3 separate regions of the Homo sapiens genome follow, and all the other regions are linked to region 1. The links come from fine-mapping of genetic effects on gene expression. A gene starts in region 1. Each other region holds a variant in brackets. All regions are shown on one strand. Distances are between the middles of the regions.

Evidence for each region. PIP is the estimated chance that this variant, and not a neighbour inherited with it, causes the effect.
Region 2: its variant is fine-mapped to the expression of PRKAR2B in whole blood (INTERVAL, PIP above 0.99).
Region 3: its variant is fine-mapped to the expression of PRKAR2B in whole blood (TOPMed, PIP 0.95).

Annotation. Positions count from the first base shown.
Region 1 is chr7:107,041,093-107,049,275 of GRCh38, forward strand. It overlaps PRKAR2B (protein kinase cAMP-dependent type II regulatory subunit beta), which reads left to right and starts at 3,613. Exons shown (of 11, transcript NM_002736.3): 1 at 3,613-4,122. The coding sequence starts at 3,816. RefSeq lists silencers at 3,366-3,925, 3,712-4,006.
Region 2 is chr7:106,971,559-106,979,741 of GRCh38, forward strand. No RefSeq gene overlaps it. Among named protein-coding and RNA genes, the nearest start is that of PRKAR2B, 69 kb to the right of the region's middle. RefSeq lists cis regulatory regions at 6,756-7,427, 7,599-7,912, 8,124-8,183. The variant T/A (reference allele first, on the strand shown) is at 3,572.
Region 3 is chr7:107,004,394-107,012,576 of GRCh38, forward strand. No RefSeq gene overlaps it. Among named protein-coding and RNA genes, the nearest start is that of PRKAR2B, 36 kb to the right of the region's middle. RefSeq lists cis regulatory regions at 2,615-3,381, 5,666-6,134, 5,867-5,990. The variant C/A (reference allele first, on the strand shown) is at 3,091.

The sequences.
Region 1 (8,183 bases):
ACAGGGCTGGCTTCTTCTATCATGCTGACTTGACTTTTACAATGTTCTATTGGTCAAAGAAATCACAAGCACATTCAGATTCAAGGGGAGGGGAAATAAGACTTCAATTCATTAGTGAGTAGTGGCCACGCCACACTGTAGGAGATATTGTTGTAGCCGTCTTTGGAAAATGCAATTTGCCACACCAAAGGTGTGGCCATGTTGACTAAGTTCTAGCCAAGAGGATAGAAGAGGAATTGTGTTTAACTTCCTAGAAGGAAGGGAGGGGAGGGGAGCTTCCCTTCTCTTTTTCACTTTCCTCTTAGCTAAAATATGACTGGCCCTGGAGCAGCCATTTTGGACCACAGACAGGATCATAGAGCAATGAGCTGGAGGGAGCCTGGGTCCCTGATGATCATGGAGTACCACACTGTGTCCGGAATTGGTGGGTTCTTGGTCTCACTGACTTCAAGAATGAAGCCGCAGACCCTCGCGGTGAGTGTTACGGTTCTTAAAAGTGGCGTGTCCAGAGTTTGTTCCTTCTGATGTTCGGATGTGTTCGGAGTTTCTTCCTTCTGGTGGGTTCGTGGTCTCACTGGCTCAGGAGTGAAGCTGCGGACCTTCGCGGTGAGTGTTACAGCTCTTAAGGCGGCGCATCTGGAGTTCCTCCCGGTGGGCTCGTGGTCTCGCTGGCTTCAGGAGTGAAGCTGCAGACCTTCATGGTGAGTGTTACAGCTCATAAAGGCAGTGTGGACGCAAAGAGTGAGCAGTAGCAAGATTTATTGCAAAGAGCAAAAGAACAAAGCTTCCACACTGTGGAAGGGGACCCGAGCTGGTTGCCACCACTGGCTCAGGCAGCCTCCTTTTATTCTCTTATCTGGCCCCACACACATCCTGCTGATTGGTAGAGCCCAGTGGTCTGTTTTGACAGGGCACTGATTGGTGTGTTTACAATCCCTGAGCTAGACACAAAGGTTCTCCATGTCCCACCAGATTAGCTAGATACAGAGGGTCCACACAAAGGATCTCCACGTCCCCACCAGAATAGCTAGATACAGAGTGGCGATTAGTGCATTCACAAACCCTGAGCTAGACACAGGGTGCTGATTGGTGTGTTTACAAACCTTGAGCTAGATACATAGTGCCGATTGGTGTATTTACAATCCCTTAGCTAGACACAAAGGTTCTCCACGTCCCCACCAGACTCAGGAGCCCAGCTGGCTTCACCCAGTGGATCCCGCACTGGGGCTGCAGGTGGAGCTGCCTGCCAGTCCCGCGCTGTGCGCCTGCGCTCCTCAGCCCTTGGGTGGTCGATGGGACTGGGCGCCGTGAAGCAGGGGGCGGCGGTCGTCGGGGAGGCTCGGGCCGCACAGGAGCCCACGGAGTGGGGGGGAGGCTCAGGCATGGCGGGCTGCAGGTCCCGAGCCCTGCCCCGCGGGAAGGCAGCTAAGGCCTGCGAGAAATTGAGCACAGCAGCTGCTAGCCCAGGTGCTAAGCCCCTGACTGCCCGGGGCCGGTGGGTCCGGCCGGCCGCTCCGAGTGCGGGGTCTGCCGAGCCCACGCCCACCCGGAACTCGCGCTGGCCCACAAGCACCACGCGCAGCCCCAGTTCCCGTCCGCGCCTCTCCCTCCACACCTCCCCGCAAGCTGAGGGAGCTGGCTCAGGCCTTGGCCAGCCCAGAAAGGGGCTCCCACAGTGCAGCGGCAGGCTGAAGGGCTCCTCAAGCGCTGCCAAAGTGGGAGCCCAGGTAGAGGAGGCGCCAAGAGCGAGTGCGGGCTGTGAGGACTGCCAGCACGCTATCACCTCTCAATACCAACTCTGAACTGCCCACATTTAGATTCCAGAGAAATAAATCTTAAGCTATTGTATTTCGCATTTTCTGCCACATGTGAGCAGTGTTTATCATAATTAATACAAATATTATCACAAATTTAGACAGGTGATACACATGCATCTTAGATTACCAGATCCGTAAAAATAATAATGCTTACACGGTAGAGAGTAGTACTAACATTGTGCTCCAACCGGTGACATGTGAGGCTCACCATATTTTATAAAAGTTTAATTCTTTTTTTTTTTTTTTGAGACGAAGTCTCACTCTTGTCCCCCAGCCTGGAGTGCAACGGCACTGCACGATCTCGGTTGACTGCAACCTCCGCCTCCTGGATTCAAGCGATTCTTCTGCCTAAGCCTCCTGAGTAGCTGGGATTACAGGTGCCTGCCACCATGCCCGCTAATTTTTGTATTTTTAGTAGAGATGGGGTTTCACCATGTTGGCCAGGCTGGTCTTGAACTCCTGACCTCAGGTGATCCGCCCACCTCGGCCTCTCAAAGTGTTGGGATTACAGGCATGAGTGAGCCACTGCGCCCGGCCAAAAGTTTAATTCTTAAAATGCTCGACACAATTAGAAGCACTTAACTACTGTATATTTAAAGCAACGTAACATTATTACTATAAAGTTGTTAAGAAATGAAAATAGAGAAATACATTGGCTCATGGAGTCAATACAGGATGCATCATTAACAAAGGGTTAACATCAAGATCCATTTTTACAAGAGGGACTAGTTCGTTACATCTCTGATTTCTAGACTTGGAGTTTCCCCAGTCATGTGTTTACTCTTCCGTGGGTGGGAAGATAAATCAGAATAACCAAGTGAGCTTGCTCTTGAAATATTTTATTTACAATGATATGATAATTGTAGAAAATGAAGTATGCGTACTTAAATAGAATTTAATTGACAAAAGACAATTTTCTCTACTTCAAAATTGTAAACATTTGCAAAGTAAGCCTCATTTCAAAGTCAAAGCCTTCTACTTTAAAAGCACACATTAGTAATTCTATTTTTCTTTATACTGAAGTATTTCAATTTTTGGACATACAAGTCAAAAATCATTCAAAGCATAAAGGAAAGTTTCAAAATAATAAGCGCCTCATCCTGCACTATCCTATTTAAAAGAGATCAACTAACTTTGATAGGTGCCTCTCAATAAATGGTGCCTTTGTCTCAATAAATAGTAAATGCGTGGAGTGCACAACGGAATAGCATCAGTAAGACGAAACATAATAAACAGGATGGATCGGGAAAGGCTGGATAAAATGTGGGGAAGAAAAAGAAAGACGTCACAAAGATGGGGTAGCATTTCTTTGTCCAAAAGAGAACCAGTACCACCATAAGACTTTAAACAAAGGACATTAGCAACACTTATCATGCAACTAGATTCTAGAAGGAAAATAAAATGCCACTACTAAGGTGGAGGCTGAAGTTTCAAGACAAATCTCCTGGCACCACCTCTGCGGGGGTTCACCATGGCGAATGACGCCTGGGAAGCGGGGCGAGTGGCCAGCCCGCTCCTGGACGCGCGGACAGGTGGACACGAAGGCGGCCTCGCTGGGCCTCCCTCCGCCTCTCCCGGCCCGGGCGCGCAGCCCTGCGGTGGTCTGACAGGCGGGTGCGCGGCGCCAGCCAGCGGAGGTTGCCATGGTTTCCGGGGGTCACGTGGGCGCGCTCTCCTGCGCCCCCTCCCGCGCACCGCGGCGGGGCGGGGGCGGGGCGCCCGGGCGGGGGAGAGGCGCGGCCGCGGCTGGAGCGGGAGGAGCAGGAGATGCTGCCAGCCCTCCCGGGGCCGCGCTCGCTCAGCCGCCGCCACCACACGGAGCAGACGCGCGCCGGGAGCCGCGGGCCGGGCCAGCCGGGCCGCCGGGGCCCAGTGCGCCGCGCTCGCAGCCGGTAGCGCGCCAGCGCCGTAGGCGCTCGCTCGGCAGCCGCGGGGCCCTAGGCCGTGCCGGGGAGGGGGCGAGGGCGGCGCCCAGGCGCCTGCCGCCCCGGAGGCAGGATGAGCATCGAGATCCCGGCGGGACTGACGGAGCTGCTGCAGGGCTTCACGGTGGAGGTGCTGAGGCACCAGCCCGCGGACCTGCTGGAGTTCGCGCTGCAGCACTTCACCCGCCTGCAGCAGGAGAACGAGCGCAAAGGCACCGCGCGCTTCGGCCATGAGGGCAGGACCTGGGGGGACCTGGGCGCCGCTGCCGGGGGCGGCACCCCCAGCAAGGGGGTCAACTTCGCCGAGGAGCCCATGCAGTCCGACTCCGAGGACGGGGAGGAGGAGGAGGCGGCGCCCGCGGACGCAGGGGCGTTCAATGGTGAGGACCAGACCCCCCACTTCGCGCCCCCGGATCCCCTCGCTGCCCCCCACCGCTCCCCGCTGTGCTCTCGGATCTTGCCGCTTTGCGCACCCACCTCTCCCCGCATTCTCCACCTTTCCCTACCTTCCCATCTCGCCCACCCCCTCAGCATCCATTTCTGTCTCTCCCACTCGCCCACCTTCCTACTCCGCTCTCTGTCATACCCTCTTCCCTTCCTCTAGAGGTGGGAGAGCTGGGATGTTACGCTTCCCTCTTACCCTTTGCCCCCTCTGCCTGGGCCGGTTGGGGTGGGCATCTGCTAGAAAGACAACTTTCGCTGTGGTTGGAGGTATTTCGCTTAGAGGATACCATTGTGCATAAAGAAACTGGCCCGCTTGGCGTCTTCTTTCAGCCCTTGTATTTATTAATGGAATGTCGAAAGAGAAAAGGAGAACCGTGTTTAATATGATTGGCTTTACTGTTGTTAGGACGGTAGATTCGCTAAAAGAAGCATGAAATTGGACTCACTGGGGCAGAACAAAATTTATGGCCAGTAGCTCTGACATTCTTGGAAATAAGAGTTATCTATTATTTTCCAATTTACCAATACCGTGTTGTGTTATTTTTGGACACGTAACAAAGGATTCTATTTAGTCTGAAACCCACGGGGGTCTTTGGAACGAGGAAATGGGTTAATGGTTTGCTTTTTATATAAAAGACATATTGAATGATTTGGTGCTTTATTTTTTTAAAAGTGTATGAGAAAAACACTGTAGGAAGTTCTGAAAGCTTGTTGGTTGTCTTTAGAATGAAAAGCCAGTGAGTAATTGTAAGGATTGTGCCAGACAGTAGAGCTAGAAAGAATGAATGGGAAAGAAAAAGGAATTTTCTCAAATAGCTGCTCCTGGCAAGTCCCACCCCTTCTGCTTACAACCCTCTTTCCCTAACACACCCAGACACACACCCTCATTTACAGCCCCTTGTATTACACAACATGCCCAAATCTCATTTTTATGGCAACCCAAGCTAAAATACCATGGAGTGCAGTGTGCAAGTGTTTTCTCTTTGTGGTGTAAGGCAAACATGCATGCAGCATTGCACCAGCTTTTATTTATTTACACTGCTTGTGGTTTGTGTGTCCGCAGTGTATTTCATAAAATGAAAACATTTAAAAGTGTCATTTCATTTCCTTGTGTATGCTCCTAGGAAGATGTTTCTTTTCTTTGCAGGATTACATGTTGAAATGGATTATAAAATTAGTGTATTTTTAGTTTCTCCAAAAGAATCCCAGAAACCCTGGAAATTAGTGCGCTGTGAAGATAAAAGTGAAGCTTGTTACTTACAATTTTAATTTTGGACTTCTAAATGTTTCCCCAAGAGGATAAACATAGTCTTAATAATTCTTTTTGCACAAGAATCGAATCAAAAGCTTTTCCTACCAGAAACGAGAAAGAGAAAAGAATGCATGTTTTAAATAGGTAAGAAGCAGCAGCCAGTAACGGATGACAGAAAGGGCAGAGATATCTAATACTTCTTTTATGCTCCTGACATGTTCGTGCACACACACAAAGGGGAAAAAAAGGACTCTTTTCCCAGGTTGGAGAAAACTAGGAACTAAGGGGCTTGGTAAAGACCATATATATATATATATTCTGTATGATATGTTGTTAATATAATCAAAATATTTTGTTTGTATAATGCATTTGTTGAAGTACTTTGCATTGATGATTGCATTTTCTCCTTATAACAATATATTGCGCACAGAAAAGATTCCATTTTCATTTTGTAGTGAAGAAATAAGCCGTTAACTTCTGAACAGCAGGGGTCATTTTATATGGCTTTATATTCTCCAAGGCACCTTTGCTGTAAAAATTGCTCAGTGTGACTTAAACAAGTTAAACTTGTTAAACAATTGCACTATTTACTCCCTAGCCTCACCCCCAAGGACTTTAAAACTTTTTGACTGCAACCAAATACAATTTGATCATTATCCAGGAGGCACATACATCTGTATAACAGAAACTTTGGCAATAGTACAGGTACTTCCTTCTGTCAGATGCAGTGCTTTTTGATATTTCCTATTTGAATCAGTTATTTCTCCCTATTTTAAATTGTATTGAGACCTCCAGTTGAAAAACATTTAATTATAGGCTACAAAGTGATTGGCAAGGTTTCTTGTAAAGGGCCGGTTAGTAAGTGTTTTAGACTTAGGGCAACATGTGGTCTTGATCACTTCTTCTTCAGTTTTTTTTTTTAAACACATACACCTTCTGAGGGTTGCGGTTGTACAAAATTAGCTGCAGATCAAGGCCATAGCTTGCCGACCCCTGGTTAGAAGAAAAAAAAAAAAGTCAAAATAGTACCATTGGGGGAAAAAACAGGAGTGATCCTAAAAAGTATGAGCCTATCAGTTTGACATCTATGTCCAGAAATGTGTCTCATTAGAAAAGAACCCCAGATACTGGGCAATTCTGGCATAGTAAAGAATAAGGATTGGAAAACAAGTCTTAATTTACTATGACACAGCACAAGACCTGCTGGGTCAGTAATTCTGAAATTTTCATAGATATCTCAAGGAAGTTTGATTCAGAAATGACCATTACCCTGTACCATTTTTGGAGAGCTTTTTTAAATAGGTTGAGATGGGACATGATATCCTTTTCTTCCCCCTCAGTAGACATCCCACCCAGGTCATTCTGATATCAATAGTTCCATGACTGTACTTTGGAAAACATTAACAGATAGTGATAATACTATATTCTTCTTAACATTTAAAACATAATTGCCGTTAGTTGACAATTGCTGTGTGCTGTCTAAATGCTTTAATTTTTTTGTCTCAGCTTTATGAGAACGATAAGGCCATCACTTGCCCAGTGTTTCACGTGAGCTGCAAAATCAAGATTGGGATACAGGTGGACCTGGCTTCATCCCTGTGCTCTTGACTGCCCGATTCTATCTCCAGATGGGGCTGGGGCTAGCATAACCTGAGTATCCCTTATATGTCAAGCTCTATTTGGGACCCTTAATGTGTTTTATTGTTAAAGCTCTGAAAAATTAACTTGTCCAAGGTCACACATAAAACGAGTAAGTAGGGAAGCCTGATTTCTTACTCTTATGTATCTAACCTTGAAGCCCAGGATGATCAGGGAGTTCTTAAATGGAATTTGTTCTGTGGGCTGACTCACAAGTCAGGTTTTCCTGTTTTTTTTTCTTTTAGTAATGCTGATGGATTTGCATTGTTGGTTCATATCCTCTCTTGTGAATGTCTTTAACGTAAGTGATGGTATTTATGAGAGGTTGGAGTTAAAAGGCAAGTTTTTGACCATGCAACTTGTGCCCATTGACAAACGTAGGACAAACGTAGGGATCAAGCATGTGACCTTGACCTTATAATGTGGTGGTTTAATCAAATAAGCCAGGCACCTGCAGTTAGCTGGAAAAAATGTTGTCTGGCCAGGGGTCGGTGATTTTTGAGGGTCAGGTGGTGTGGCTGTAGGTGGCGCTAGAGCAAACAGTCAGATGGGTGAAGGTCATCTTCTTTCCTACCTTTCCAAAGGATCCCTTCCTCTTCTAATAGCTTTCTTTTCCCTCTCCTATTCTCTTCCAGTCTTATAAATTCTAATTGTTACTTTCCATTTGCTATCAATTCTGGTCGAAAGAGCAAGCTTTAGATGTTAGAATGATAGTGGCTTATGGTGACCCTTTCTAGGGAAACTCTCAAAGGCCAGAAAGAAGCCATAATGGAAACCTCTTGGCATCTACTCTGTCTCCCTCTTCCCCGTCCTAGAGAAAGCAAATACAGTTTGACATGTCATGTCTGAAAGGGTAGCATCCCTAGGCCTTGAATTTCTTAGAAGGTTTACGGTAGGCTATAGCATTGCATCAGTACTAGTTTGGAGTAAAATCTGTGGTAATTCATGATTTTATATAGGCATCATCAAGAGATCTTGTGTTGCCCCATAATTTCTTCAGTGGAATTGCTGAAACAAAAAATGAAGTAAATACCATTCAGATTACTCTGATAAATGGACAAGTGGTCAGAAACAAAATTAACTACACATGGGCACATGCAGAGCAGT
Region 2 (8,183 bases), 70 kb before region 1:
AACATTAATCATATGTTTCCTGTGTGTTTCTCTCCCTCTTTACACCCCTAGGTGTAAAATAGATTTATAGATTTAAAGCTAAATAGAGTTGGAAAGACTATTTTTTTTCCCACTTGCACCCCTAGGGTCTTTTTATTCTTCTATTCAGTTCTACTCAGATAGGAATAAGTCACCCACTTTGGAAGCAGTAACAGAGACTATAAAATTAAAAGGGTGAGATATTTAGCCAAAGGATATGTCTGCATGATTGCAGAGTTAGTTTTTCCACTCTAAAGACTACATAGGCTGGGCCAGGTGCCGTGGCTCAGACCTGTAATCCCAGCGCTTTGGGAGGCTGAGGTGGGTGGACCATGAGATCAGAAGATCGAGACCATCCTGGCTAACACAGTGAAACCCCGTCTCTACTAAAAATACAAAAAAATTAGCCAGGCATGGTGGCAGCCGCCTGTAGTCCCAGCTTCTTGGCAGACTGAGGCAGGAGAATGGCATGAACCTGGGAGGCAGAGCTTGCAGTGAGCCGAGATGGTGCCACTGTACTCCAGCCTGGGCGACAGAGCAAGCCTCTGTCTCAAAAAAAAAAAAAAAAAAAAAAAAAAACTACATAGGCTGGTAGCAGTGGCTCACGCCTGTAATCTCAGCATTTTGGGAGGCCGAGGGAGCAGATCACTTGAGGTCAGGAGTTTGAGACCAACTGGGCCAACATAGTGAAACCTCATCTCTACCAAAATTACAAAAATTAGCCAGGTGTGTTGGCATATGCCTGTAATCCCAGCTTCTCGGGAGGCTGAGGTGGGAAAATCACCTGAACCTGGGAGGCAGTTCAAGCCATGATGTTTTCTTTATTCCTGTCTCCAAGTGGTCTTGTTACCGGGGGTCTTTGTTCTTGGAGCTCCCAAGTTGGTGGCGAGTGGCTCCCAAGATGGCGGCAAGCCTTTTGTTCTCCGACCTGGGTTTCTTGGCCTCACGGATTCTAAGGAATGGAACCTTGGGCCATGCAGTGAGTGTTACAGCTCTATTAGAAGTCATGGGTCACGGAAGAGAATGGTGGAACCCAGCGACTAGTGTTCGGCTCGATTAGGTCGAACCCCAGCACTTATGTAGGAACAATGGCAAGCCTTTAGCCCGATCTGGAGCAGCAATGGGCGCCTGGCTGGATCAGGAGCGCAGCAGACACCTGGCCGGATCCGGAGGGGTGAAAGTCAGTGGCGGGTCTGCAACCGCAGGGATCAGCAGTGGTAGATTGCAAGCAAAAGCTCAGCTTGAGCTGGAACAAACATGGACCAGAAGAGTGTACAGTTGCAAGATTTAATAGAGAGAAAACAGAGCTCCCATGCAACGGGAGGGGACCCAAAGGGGGCTGCCCACTCCCCGCTCGAATGCCTGGGGTTTATATCTCAATCATTGTCCTGCCCCCTGTGTTCGCAGGCAATATATAATTTGACTATTTCTTTACCTCCTGCTTTTAGCCTAATTTGTAATTTAGTGAGCCCTCTTTACTACCTGATTGGTCAGGTGTGAGCTGAGTTACAAGCCGCTTGTTTAAAGGTGGGTGTGGTCACCTTCCCCAGCTAGGCTTAGGAATTCTTAGTCGGCCTAGGAAATCCAGCTAGTCCTGTCTCTGTCTCTCTGCCTTTTTCTTCCCTCTGCAATCCAAATTTTATCTAGTGTTTTTTTGTTTTTGTTTTTTGTTTTTTGTTTTAGAGAAAGTCTTGCTGTGTCGCCCAGGCTGGAATGCAGTGGCACAATCTTGGCTCACTGCAGTCTGCCTCCTGAGTTCAAGCAGTTCTCATGCCTCAGCCTCCTGAGGAGCTGGGATTACAGGTGTACACCACCACGCCTGGCTAATTTTTTGTACTTTTAGTAGAAACAGGGTTTCACCATGTTGGCCGGGCTGGTCTCAAATTCCTGGCCTCAAGTGATCTGCCTGCCATGGCCTCCCAAAGGGTTGAGATTACAGGCGTGAGCCACCCCGCCTGGCCTAAAAAGGTGATACTGATGGAAAAGATGAAATAATCTTAACAGATGATATGATGGAAAGGATTTGTTGAAGCCAGGGCTTTAAGAAGAAAACAGAGAGGAGTACATTTAGAAATTTTAAAATAAAACTCGACAAGAAAAAGAAATCTAAATATGTAGCCAGCTCAAATGCATAATTGTTTTAAGACATTTTTTAATTGTAAGAAGAGAAAATTCATTTGACCTTGAGGAAAAGAAATTGTCCTACTGATCCTGAATGTATCATTTGGACCAGTAAAGAAGTAAAGTGTTTCTAGCATGTAACTTGAGCCAGCATTTGCACAGGACTAATAACACAAAAGCTGCTTTTTTGACTTGCAAGGAAGACTGGACTGTGGTAGCAGAGCAGAATACAAATAGGTAATCTTGATCATGCAAAAAGGTAATTGACAAAAAAAAGGGGGGGTGCCATGGAAGAAGGAGGAAAGCTAGAAAAAAGAACGGGGGCACCAACATCTTTTTATTAAGCTAAGACTCAATAGAAAGTGCTTAGAGTTGATGGCACAAGAAATAGAGGCATAAATAATTCATACTCACAAAGGTAATCAATGGAAAAGCTGAAAGAAAAATATGGCACAAGATAGACATCCAGCATTGAAAGGAGTAAAGGAGAACGTCAAATATGAGAACAGTTACAACAGAAATCTTTTTTGAATGTTGATTTAGGCAGTTCAGGCTGCTATAACCAGCTACCATAGACTGGGTGCCTTAAACAACAAACATTTATCTCTCAACAGTTTTGGAGGCTGGGAAGTACAAGATCAAGGTGCTCGTAGATCCCATATCTGATGACATCCTTCTTCTGGATTTGAAGAGGGCCATCTAATCATGGCGAAGGGAAAGAGAGGGAAAGCAAGCTGTCTCATGTCTCTTCTTGTAAGAGCATGAATCCCATCATGAGAGCTCCACCCCCACAAATTAATCACCTCCCAAAGGCCCCATCTCCAAACAGCATCCCACTGGGGATTAGGGTTTCAACATAGGAATTTTGGAAGAATACAAATATTTGGTCCATACCATTGACTGTGGAAAATAGATCTGAGGCTAGACAGAGGTGGGAAGAATTTTTTTTTTTTTTTTTTTTTTTTTTTTTGAGACAGAGTCTCACTCTGTTGCCCAGGCTGGAGTGCAGTGGCACGATCTCGGTTCACTGCAAACTCCGCCTCCTGAGTTCAAGCAATTCTCGTGCCTCAAGTAGCTGGGATTACAGGCACGTGCTACCACGTCCAGATAATTTTTTTGTATTTTTAGTAAAGATGGGGTTTCACCATGTTGGCCAGGCTGGTCTCAAACTCCTGACCTCAGGTGATCCGCCCACCTCGGACTCCCAAAGTGCTGGGATTACAGGCATGAGCCATTGCGCCCTGCCTATTATTTTTAATTAAAAACTCCTCTATGTTCTTTGATTTGTTTTCTTGAATATATACTTTTTTGACTAAAAAATTGTAAGATGTATTTCAGAAATCATCTCTTCTGTAAAACCTTCTCTGATGTCCCCTCCCCTGCTCCCACCAGCAGCACAGGGCACTTGCTTTTTTAAATTAATTAATTAATT[T/A]ATTTATTTATTTATTTATTTATTTTGGAGACAGAGTCTCGCTCTGTTGCCCAGGCTGGAGTGCAGTGGCACCATCTCTCAACCTCCGCCTCACGAGCTCAAGTGGTTCTCCTGCCTCAGCCTCCCGAGTAGCTGGGACTACAGACGCCCACCATGGCGCCCGGCTAATTTTTGTATTTTTAGTAGAGATGGGGTTTCACCATGTTGGCCAGGCTGGTCATGAACTCCTCACCTCAGGTGATCCGCCCACCTCGGCCTCCCAAAGTGCTGGGATTACAGGCGTAAGTCACCATGCCTGGCTGAGCAGGGCACTTTCATTTATGCCCTAGTTGTACTTATATCAGATGCTATGGACTGAATTTTGTCCCACTCACCCCATGCCCAGATTCATATGTTGAAGCTCTAATACTCACTTCCATGCGACTGTATTGGAGATAGCCTTCGGGGAGTTGGGGGTGGATTAAGGTTAAATGAGGGCATAAGGGTAGAGCCCTGATCTGTTAGAACTGGTGCCCTTATAAGAAGAGGAAGAGACACCAGAACTGTCTCTCTACCATGTGAGGACACAGCGAGATGGTGGGTGTCTGCCAGCCAGAAAGAGAGCCCTCACCAGAACCTGACAATGCTGGCACTGTGATCTCAGACTTCTCAAAACTCTGAGAAAATTAATTTCTACTGTTTAAGAAATACCCAGTCTATGATATTTTGTTATGGTGGCCTGAGCCAACTAATGCACCAGGTTCTACTGCCATGATTTAATATATCTATCTCCCCTTCTAGATTCTAGACTCCTTGAGAGCAAAGGCCCATATTAATATTAATAGAACTGCCATATAGTGAGGGCCAACTATGTGTCAGACACTGCACTAGGCTCTCACAACTATCTTGGGTGACAGAGCGAGACTCCGTCTCAAAAAAAAAAAAAAAATCCTAAAACTTCTTAATGTCAGAACTATTATCCTCACTTTACAGGTAAGAAACTAAGGCCATAGAAGGAGGCCTTTTTTTCTTACAGGTAAGGAAAAAAAAGGGCCATGGAAGGAGGAGGAAAGCTTAAAAAAAATGGGAGCACCAACATCTTTTTATTAAGCTGAGACTTAATAGGTAATGCTGAAAATTGATGGCACAAGAAACAGAGGCATAAATAAGAGGAGAAATTGTGTGATTTGTCTAAGTTCATTAAAATCCATTCATACCTGCCTCCACAACACCATACTGCCCTCCTTATTATCTGTATTTTCTTGCCTCCTAGCAATTCACACACAGCGGTTTTCAGAATTTGTTTGTTAATTTTCTGAATAAGTGGAATCCCTATCTCAGAAAGGGAAAAGGATGCTGTTTCTCTTTACAGTAATGAAATTCCTGAACTAACATTTTTGAACACTCTTCACCTCCCACGATAATAAAGTTTTAAATCCCTCTTTTAGACAGGCCTAACCACATAATTTGTGGATCTCAGTGCAAAATGAAATTGCAGGACTTACAGTTCAAAAATTCTTAAGAATTTCAAGATGGCAGCAACAGAGCGTTAAACCAAGCCCAGGACCTTCACAGGCATAGGCTGCATGCCCAAGAAGCCAGCCCTCCCCACCATGACATTTCCTCCATGCAACTCTCAGTCTCTAATCATTACATATGACATTGTTATTTCAGGTGGGATGAGAGACAGTGTGGCTGGGAGTGCATCACACACCTATTTTTCCTTTGTTTCTCTGTTTCCTAGAAATGATCCATTAGCCAGATCAAGAACTAACACTTGAGAGAGAATTCTCAACAGACACACCGAGTTGTGTTCCTAAACAACAAAAGCATTCGTGGAATGTGCAAAGGAGGCTGAGTGCCTATGATCCAAGTTTTGCTCCAGAAAGGGAAAACACATAAAACTCCACATAAATGTATCATAAAATGAGAAGATATCGTGATCATAGGAGATTAAAACACTTGGCCCATTGCCTTGCAATCAAAGTAATCTTTGAATACATTCAAGAGTTAGCACCAACATTGCCAACCCTAGTAGAATTGTTCCATAAGGAATGCTGCATTCTTAGCTAGTGGCTATGAAACTTTAAACCAAGAATTGTAAATCCAGTGCCCTTAGGAGCCAGACAGGTACTGTACATGAGTGAGGTCGGACACGTGGGGACTTGGGCAACTGGAGAGCACATCTGGCTCTCTAGGTGCAGCTCTTCCCCTAGTCCAGTCCGTCTGATTTTTTTTTTTTTTTTTTTTGAGACAGCTTCTCACGCTGTTGCCCAGGCCAGAACACAATGGGATGATCAAGCCATCCCCCCACCCCAGCCTCCGAAGTAGCTGCAACTACAGGCATGAGCCACCATGCCCGACTAAATTTTATTTTTTGTAGAGATGAGCTTTCACTATGTTGCCCAGGCTGGTCTTGAACTCCTGGACTCAAGTGATCCACCCACCTTGGCCTCCCAAAGTGCTGGGGTTACATGCACGAGACACCACGCCCAGAATCTATTCATAGGAGTGTGGGCCCGTGTGATCAGATCTCCTGAATTTTCAAGAAAATTTTAAAAATGGATATATCTCAAGTTGCAAATGTTAGTAACTCATTTTAATAATGAACCAAATCTGTTCTGGTCAAATAAAAGTTGTCTGGGGGGTTGGTAATGGTCATGTGCCCTTAGTTTAAGCTCTAAGTGACTAAGAAAACCCTCATTTTATCATACAGCTTCCTAAGAAAACTAAGTTTGGAGTCTGGGTGTGGTGGCTCACGCCTGTAATCCCAGCACTTTGAGAGGCTGAGGTGGGTGGATCACAAGGTCAGGAGTTCGAGACCAGCCTGGCCAACATAGTGAAACCCCATCTCTACTACAAATACAAAAATTAGCCAGGTGCAGTGGTATGCACCTGTAGTCCCAGCTACTTGGGAGACTGAGGCAGAAGAATCGCTTGAACCCAGGAGGTAGAGGTTGTGGTAAGCCGAGATCGCACCACTGCCCTCCAGTCTGGTCAACAGAGCAAGACTTTGTCTCAAAAAAAAAGAAAGAAAGAAAAGAAAAATATGTTTGGGACAAGAGCCCCATACACAAATTCGTCACAAGAATGCTCAGGTGGCCAGGACATTTGAGTTGGGAAGGACAAAGATTCTAAGGCATTGGTTCTCAAATCCACCACTCCAGGAGACATTTTTGGTTGTCACAAGTGGGAGGAGGATTAAAATGTTAGTGGCATCTCGTGGGGAGAGGCTACGGGTGCTGTTAAACATCCTGCAATGCAGACAACAGCCCTCACAACAAATATCATCCAACCATAATGGCAATAGTGCTGAGGTTGAGAAACTCTGCCCTAAGGTAATGATTTGTCTTCAGAATGCAGTCCTCAGGCCACAGATTAATGCAGATCCTTGATACCCAACCCAGCCTGCTGAATCATATACTCTGTAGGTAACACTAGATGTGTGCATTTTAGAACTCTTCCCAGGTGATGTAAATGCATGCTGAAATTTGAGAGCCATTGAACTGAAACATCAGAATTGAAGGAACTCATTTATATCTACAGAACATCCATTGTGTGTTTAGCAAGGATGCATGTTCAATGATAACAGAGAGAACTTTTACTTTTAAGCTGCAAAATACCGCACAGCCAAAGCAATGGTATCAGAATAGTCCGCCCACAGTCACAGCCTGTTCCAAAAAGATAGGGGGAGTTAGAAAGCAGAAAAACTGTCACCACGTCTTTAGCCTCCGAGTACAGAAAGTCATGTCTTAGACTGCTGATGGCATTTTTAAAAGTTTATCAACATGAAAACCAAAACAGCTACGAAAAATCACAATTTTAAAGGCAACCTATATTCCTCAATGTTGGAAATCCAGGCATTTGTAATTAACATACATAAAATTAAAGAGAATACATTATAGATATCCTTACTACGACCTTTAGTACACCTCATAGCAATTGGAAATTAGTTTAAGCTATATAAAGTCACCTGTTGTGCCAGTTTATTTTGTTATTTTTCATTAGCACCAAAAATATATATTTTAAAGGGAACACGGCCTGGAGCCCTCCCTCCTTTGTGGAGTGTATTAGAAGCTTCTTTTCTCCAGAATTGCTGTTACTCTTGTCTTTCCCTTTGCTGTGTGAAGTCACCACCAGAATGGGCAGCCATTACTGACGGAAGTGTGTCTGACCCCTGGAAAGATCTGAATGCATAGTGGGCCATTGTCCCTAGTGGACGTGAATGGAAAACTCACCCCAGAAGCATCAGCTTAGATAAGTGAGATTTTTTTCCCAGAGCCGATGCAATAAGAATTTCCAGGCTGTAAACCCAGGCAGGTCTGAGAGATGTAGCTTTCTGGGTAGTAAAATCATAGCCTTGTATGCTAGTGTATGTTTTTTTCTGATTTGGAGCATAAAAGGCATCTTTGCAGGGCTAGCAAGGTCATGGAACTCCAGAAAGGCCTCCCTAAAATAAAAGGGAGGCAACGGGGAGCCTTGCCATGCTTCCGTGAACTTATCTTGTTTATATCCTTTTTACTGGTTTTTTTTTTTTTTCCACTGCTTTAGGAGAAAGCCAAAGTAAAACCAGTTACGTCTAGGACACATTGTCATGATTGCCTGTGGCCTGGCTCAGAGTGGGGAAAAGTTT
Region 3 (8,183 bases), 37 kb before region 1:
GATCACGCCACTGCACTCCAGCCTGGGTAACAGAACGAGACTCTGTCTAAAAAACAAACACACACACACACAAACAAAAAAACAGCATTGTTGGTGAGATGCGATGTGACAGTAGAAAGAACACGGATTTTGATATTAGACAGATCCAAACTCATACTTTGGGTCCACTTTTTTTCCAGCAATATCACCTTGTGCAAGTCATTTTCTCTGTTTAACCCTCTATTTCTGCATCTGTTAAAAAAAAAAGTGTATTTGAACCTTTTCAATTCTAAGTTACTAAAAATGTGCCAGTATTTCAAAAAGCCAAAATTCACCTCCAAAAAAGCTTATGTAACGTATTTCAACACCCATAACCAATGCCAAGACATATTGGCAATGTCAACACACAGAGCAATACCTTTACTGATGCTCACTACTATTTATCAGGAAACAGATTAGTGCTTCTATGCATTTGTTTTTATTTGAAGTTTTCCTATGAAACTTGTGATACACTAATATCACCCGCATTATACAGGTGAAGCAGGTGAGACAAAAAGGTTAATAAATGCCTTCCTGAAAGTTCATTATTCAATCAACAGCAACATTGGCAGAGAATTGTCTCCTACTCTCCTCCCCCATTTGAAACAGAACATTTCTGTCTCAAAATGAAGGACTAGTGTACATTTGAGGCCTAACTGAATAGCTGAATAAATAGTAGCTACCATTATTATTGTTACTGTCAATATAATTTCCTTCCCCTTAGAGTTGATTATTTCCTTCTTTCCGTTCCAAAAACATTTTATTCAAATGTCTGTAATGGCATTTATTGTAAACCATATTCCCTCAAAAACAATGTGACTTCTAATTTTTCAACCTGAAGCATCCACAGTGTCAGTTACGGGGTAGGATTATAACATTAGAAAGAACAGGTGTCCTTGATTGTTAGGTTTGTCAGGGAAATAGAGAAACGGTGTGCAGAGATTTTGATACAACGACTCCATGCAATCTGCACACTCCTTTTGGGGGGCTCCCTCTGATGTTAGTTGACAAGCTTCACAAGGATGCAAAGTAAGACAAATTAGTCCATGATATACAATTAGGGGGGACATTACTATGAAGAAAGTCTTGCATTTTCCGAATAAATAATGGAAGGAGGGCAGTTTCATATTTAATGTTGCATTGGTATTCCTTACTGTAATTTATGTAATACAATTTTTCTATTTGCTTTCCTTTTTCTTTGAGATAGAGTCTTGCTCTGTCCCCTAGGTTGGAGTAGAGTGGCGCTATCTCGGGTCACTGCAACCTCTGCCTCCCGGGTTCAAGCGATTATCATGCCTCAGCCTCCCAAGTAGCTGGGACTACAGGCATGCACCACCACACCTGGCTAATTTTTGCATTTTTAGTAGAGACGGGGTTTCGCCATGTTGACCAGGCTGGTCTCGAACTCCTGACCTCAAGTGATCCACCCACCTCCGCCTCACAAAGTGCTGGGATTACAGGCATAAGCCACCGCACCCAGCCCATTTGCTTTCTTTATAGCAATCATCCTGAGGAAAGGCAGAGACCCTCTTTGGCAAGGACCTCTCTCCCAGGTATGATGCCTCCACCCTGTCCAAAGGTAGGCTTCAGCTTGGGAACTGTTGTATAATTGCTGTAAAGTTACATTGGCCCCAAATCTTTTTTTTTTTTTTTTTTTTTTTTTTGAGACGGAGTCTCGCTCTGTCGCCCAGGCTGGAGTGCAGTGGCACTATCTCAGCTCACTGCAAGCTCCACCTCCCGGGTTCACGCCATTCTCCTGCCTCAGCCTCCCGAGTAGCTGGGACTACAGGCGCCTGCCACCACGCCCAGCTAATTTTTTGTATTTTTAGTGGAGATGGGGTTTCACCATCTTGGCCAGGCTGGTCTTGAACTCCTGACCTCGAGGTCCACCCACCTCGACCTCCCAAAGTGCTGGGATTACAGGTGTTAGCCACTGCACCCGCCCCCAGCTGTGATTTCTGAAGTGGCTGTAAGAGAGATGTCTACCGTGTTAGCAGGAACCCTTCAGGTCTACCATGTTATGAGGGAGAGGGACGGCCGGGCGCGGTGGCTCACGCCTGTAATCCCAGCACTTTGGGAGGCTGAGGTGGGTGGATCACGAGGTCAGGAGATCGAGACCATCCTGGCTAACGCGGTGAAACCCCATCTCTACTAAAAATATTTTTTAAAAAAATTAGCCGGGCATGGTGGCTGGTGCCTGCAGTCCCAGCTACTCGGGAGGCTGAGGCAGGAGAATGGCGTGAACCTGGGAGGCGGAGCTTGCAGTGAGCCAAGCCTGGGCGACAGAGTGAGACTCCGCCTCAAAAAATAAATAAATAAAAATAAAAAATAAAAAGGAGAGGGACAATTATGTAGAATGGGCGACGTTTGGCTTGCTGCCCAAATACCTCCCCACTGGGCTAGCTGATGCTTGCAATTCTGTATGCAGTGTTTCATTCCTTAGTTCCCTAATGAAAATACCCCTGAGAAAGAAAACACATGGAACCTTTTTCGTTATTTGCTTTTTCTGCTTCTTTGGAGAAACGAGTTGATTAAATTATTTCTTGACAACAGTTTAAAAAAGAGAATAAGGACTATTGAGTAAGGAGAAAACATAAGAGGGAAAAATCACTAGCTAGCTTCTCTTGAGCCATGTGTTGTAGCTAGGTCCCTCAGCCCTGAAAATGTCCTCACCGTGAACAGAAAAGCATTCTATAATGAGTCCTTCAAAGGAATTAGTGTGTTAGCTAGATGTGGAGATAAAAGGTCATTTTCTGCAAGTCCCCCATAACTGAAGGTTAGTAAATGCCTTCCTGAAAGTTCATTATTCAGTCAACTGTCTTTTCCTAAAAATTCTGACAATGACTCACATCGTAGAGGCTTTGGACAGATATCCCTATGAGATGTCTTAAATTCTTAGTGTGGTCATTCTACCTGAGGTAAGAGTGGAAGCTGTTTTTGCCAGAAACGCTGGAGATACGAGACCAGTTCATCTTCCATAACATTGTTCTTAAAAAAGTTTTCTGATAAATCCTTCAGAGCTGCTATTTTTCTCTCCTGCTGGTAGAGCCAGGGCTTTAAGGCCCAGAATCT[C/A]AGGCTGGCCTGCTTCCCCTTGTCTTTATCAGTGTGACTGCAGCAGCAGTTACAACAGTGGCAGCTTCGATAGCCTTCCCTATCTCGGTCCCTCTTCCCCTACTTCTAAACTTGGATGTGATCACAGCTTTTACTTTCAGAGACAACTATGGGAACATGACAGCTCAGGGTGTTATTTTACTGTAATGCAAAACTCATTCAGTGATACTTCCAGCAGTAAGGAAAAACAGTATTGCAATAGTTCCATCATAGTTGAAATTTCCATGCAGCTATGTGAGAAAGGCCACAAAAATGAAGGTGATACTTGCTTTTAAAAAAAAATACCTGGCTACTTATACATTGTTGGGAGTCAAAAAAATAAAAATAAAAAGGGAATTCAGTTTGTGTTTGAATCATGGTCCATATGAGATGTTCTGGGTTATAATCTTTAGCTAAAATATTTTTCTCATTTTGCTCAATATCTGTATGTAAACTAAGTTGACATGGTTCACAGAACATCTGGAACCTTTTATCTAGTTCTCAGCCATAATCTAGAACTGGCCTCCATTTTCCATGGGAACCAAGGAATGCTATGAATACTATGCAGCCTGACAGCTTTATACTGTCACGGGAAGCATGGCAGCTCAGGAAGCCCATGCAACTCCAGCCCACATTTCTCAGGGCTCCTTTCAAGTTCCCCTGCCTTGACTCCTATTGAGCTCTCTCCTTGAGTCACCCATCTTATTCTACCTTGGCTCTCTAGAAACACACACTTTCACGTATGACCCAGCTATCTCTAGATACTCTAAAAACTTTTTTTTTTTTTAATTTTAGACAGAGTTTCCCTTTTGTCACCCAGGCTGGAGTGCAATAGTGCAATCTCGGCTCACTGCAAGCTCCGCTTCCCCGGTTCAAGTGATTCTCCTGCCTCAGCCTCCCAAGTAGCTGGGATTACAGGTGTGCACCACTAGGCCCGGTTAATTTTTTTGTATTTTTAGTAGCGACGGGGTTTCACCATGTTGGCCAGGCTGGTCTCGAACTCCTGACCTCAGGTAATGCGCCTGGCTTGGCCTCCCAAAGTGCTGGTATTACAGGCGTAAGCCACAGTGCCCGGCCACTCTAAGAGCTTTATAGACATTTTCTTTCTTTTTTTTTTTTTTTTTTTTTTTTCTGAGATGGAGTTTTGCTTTCTTACCCAGGCTGGAGTGCAGAGGTGGGATCTCAGCTCACTGCAACCTCTGCCTCCTGAGTTCAAGTGATTCTTCTGCCTCAGCCTCCCTAGTAGCTGGGACCACAGGTGTGTGCCACCATGCCTGGCTAATTTTTGTATTTTTAGTAGAGATTGGGTTTCACCATGTTGGTCAGGCTGGTCTCGAACTCCTGACCTCAGGTGATCCACCCACCTCGGCCTCCCAAAGTGCTGGGATTACAAGCATGAGCCACTGCGCCTGGTCCTTTATAGACATTTTCTTATTCAATCTACAGCACCTCTAATAGACCCGTGGGAAACACAGTTTTATTATTACCACAAAGAAAACTAGGTGCACATAGTCTGAAATATTTGCACACAGCAAGCTGATAAAGCCGCTGAGAAGGAATCAAAGCCTAATCCATTAAAATATAATTACCTTTTTTTTGAGGACTCAAGATTTTTTTTGGTGTGCTGTGGTGAAAGTATGGGTAAATGCGGCTGGTCGCGGTGGCTCATCCCGGTAGTCTCAACACTTTGGGAGGCCGAGGAGGGTGGATCATGAGGTCAGGAGATCGAGACCATCCTGGCTAACATGGTGAAACCCCGGCTCTACTAAAAATACAAAAAATTAGCCGAGCGTGGTGGCGGGCGTCTGTAGTCCCAGCTACTCCGGAGGCTTAGGCAGGAGAATGGCGTGAACCCAGGAGGCGGAGCTTGCAGTGAGCCAAGACTGCGCCAAGACTGCGCCACTGCACTCCAGCCTGGGCGACAGAGCGAGACTCCATCTCAAAAAAAAAAAAAAAAAAAAAAAAAAAAAAAAAAAAAAAATCCTGGATAAATGCTACCAAGTGAATGGAAAAAAGGACTTTAACCTTTCTAAGAAAATTCAGCAGGCATTAGATTGTCACAATTAGAATTGGTTGTCTTTTCCAAATTTAGGTGACCTTTTTTAAGTGGAGCAACTGAAATCTAATTAAACACAAAGAAGTTGAGGTTTCACTCAAGAACCAATTTCTAAGTTCAGAGATCATTTCAATGCCAAGCTCCTGATTACTATAAACTGAAAAAATAATTAACAGAGGATTTTTAAAATGTTGGATGTGCATGCTAAAGTGTTTGATATATTCTCATCAAGTGTATCTTCGGTGATTTTATTAGCTACTTTTAGATATCAAAGAAGTATAAAAACTTGAAAAATAAAGTCATTGATAATGAATGCTGCAATCAATTTTTCCTGGCAGAACAAGTCATCAGATTATACAGGGAGATAAAAATGTTCAGTACCAGATTGTACTTTTCATTTATGACAAAAGAAGGGGTGCGGATCAACAACTGGCTTTATAGCCAATGTCAACACCAAGAACTCCACAGAGAGGATTAGCATAAGAAGATCTGTGAAGGATCCAGCATGTTCTTTTTCCCTAGACCGATAGAAGCAAATGAAAAACAAAACAAAACAAAAAACCTCCAGGCCTGGTGCGTCCCTGTTTGCCGCAATACCTCACAATAAGGAGGGTTTAGGCATAAAAATAAAAACAATTCTTTAACTTACATGAAGCATAAAGTGTTTTCAAAGCACTTTCATATCCATTTTCATTTTGTCCTCATCCATTCCTATTGACCATTATCTCCCTTTTCCAAATGCAAACACAACTCAGTCTCTCTGAAATTCAGACTGCAACTACTCTTCAACACCACGGGATGCATGTTGAGATAAAATCCGGATCTGGGGCAGATGGAAGAAAAATACCGTTGGCCCTAAAAAGACAAGAGTCACCAGCATGACGCTTTTTTTTTTTTTTTTTTTGAGACAGAGTCTCACTTTGTCGCCCAGGCTGGAGTGCAGTGGCATGATATTGGCTCACTGCAACCTCCACCTCCCAGGTTGAAGCGATTCTCCTGCCTCAACCTCCCAAGTAGCTGGGATTACAGGCATGCGCCATGATGCCCAGTTAATTTTTGTATTTTTAGTAGTGACAAAGTTGCACCATGTTGGTCAGGCTGGCCTCAAGTAATCCGCCCACCTCGGCCTCCCAAAGTGCTGGGATTACAGGCGTGAGCACCACACCGAGTCCACCATGAGGCTTTTATAAGGATGGACAGGCTACTGACTTCTGGGTGGGGATTAAAGACAGGATTCTGTGCCATCCTGCCCCCAAATCCCTCCTCTACAGACTGAGTCACTGTATCTGATTAAGCAGAATGTGCATTGTTGTGAAATAGGTCCCATGAAGGATGCAAACATTCCAGTTTTACACCTCAACTCCAAGTGCACACAATCAAAACCACTGTAGAGAATGTTATATGACAATCATCATATCTTATAGTGGATCAGTTGCGGTACACAGACTTCATTATGAGGTCTACCATGAGAAACTTTATATTCTGACTTAAAAATGTCCCATAGTGGGCCGGGCGTGGTGGCTCACGCCTGTAATCTCAGCTCTTTGGGAGGCCGAGGCGGGCGGATCACAAGGTCAGGAGATCGAGACCATCCTGGCTAACACGGTGAAACCCCGTCTCTACTAAAAATACAAAAAATTAGCCGGGCGTGGTGGCAGGCACCTGTAGTCCCAGCTACTCGGGAGGCTGAGGCAGGAGAATGGCTTGAACCTGGGAGGCAGAGATTGCAGTGAGCCGAGATCGTGCCACTGCACTCCAGCCTGGGCAACAGAGCGAGACTCCATCTCAAACAAACAAACAAACAAACAAAAAGTCCCTTAGTGATTAGTTCCTCCCTGACCTCATTAAGTTAAAACGAGACACATTCAACATTTTCCAAGAAATGAAGCATGAGTCCATTTTACACAGCAAACAATGCCAAGATAACTAGGCAGCGGGTTTCAGAGAAATATGCCTCCATTTTGAAATTGAGCCAGAATTCATACCTTATGCTCCTGAAAAAAATTATTTTTACCAAAACTACATGAAGAACTGTCTTGATTTTATTTGGAAAATTCCCAATTTTGTGTTGCAGTGGTTATGTGTGAAACCTAAATGTCTATTGCAAAGAGTAACTTGCTTTATAAACTATGTTGGTAAACCAATATGGTTTGTTGTTTGTTTTTTTGTTTTTTTGTTTTTTGTTTTTGAGACGGATTCTCACTCTGTCACCCAGGCTAGAGTGCACTGGCATTATCTCAGCTCATTGCAACCTCCGCCTCCCAGGTTCAAGTGATTCTCCTGCCTCAGCCTCCCAAGTAGCTGGGACGACAGGTGCCCGACACCACACCCGGCTAATTTTTGTATTTTTATAGAGACGGGGTTTCACCCTATTGGCCAGACTGGTCTCAAACTCCTGACCTTGAGATCCTCCTGCCTTGGCCTCCCAAAGTGCTGGGATTACAGGTGTGAGCCACTGTGTTTTTTGTTTTTTGTTTTGAGGCAGGATCTTGCTCTCTTGCCCAGGCTGGAGTGCAGTGGTGCTGTCACAGTTCACTGCAGACTTAACCTCCTGGGCTCAAGTCATTCTCCTGCCTCAGCCTCTTGAGTAGCTGGGTCCACAATATGCCTGGCTAATTTTATTTTTTAGTTTTTAAAGAGACAACATCTTATCATGTTGCCCAGGCTGGTCTTGGACTCCTGAGCTCCAGTGATCCTCCCTCCTCAGCCTCCCAGAATGTTGGGATTACAGGCATGAGCCACGGTGCCTGGCCACCAATTTGTTTAGTAATCATGTTGGGGGCAGCATCATGTCTCCAACATGCCCCAAAGGAAGTGTTTTCCTATTTTATGTACAGGTGTAGATTTCTGCCTATCACTGTAGCATTTTTCATGTTAAAGTTTCAGAACACTTTGATATACTATTGTTTGCCCATTTTTTACAAAAAGAGAAACTGAAGCATTAAAGATCATACAGTAATTAGAGACAGTTTAGAGCAGCAGTTCTCAAAGTGTGGGCAAGTTATCCTTATGAGTTCCT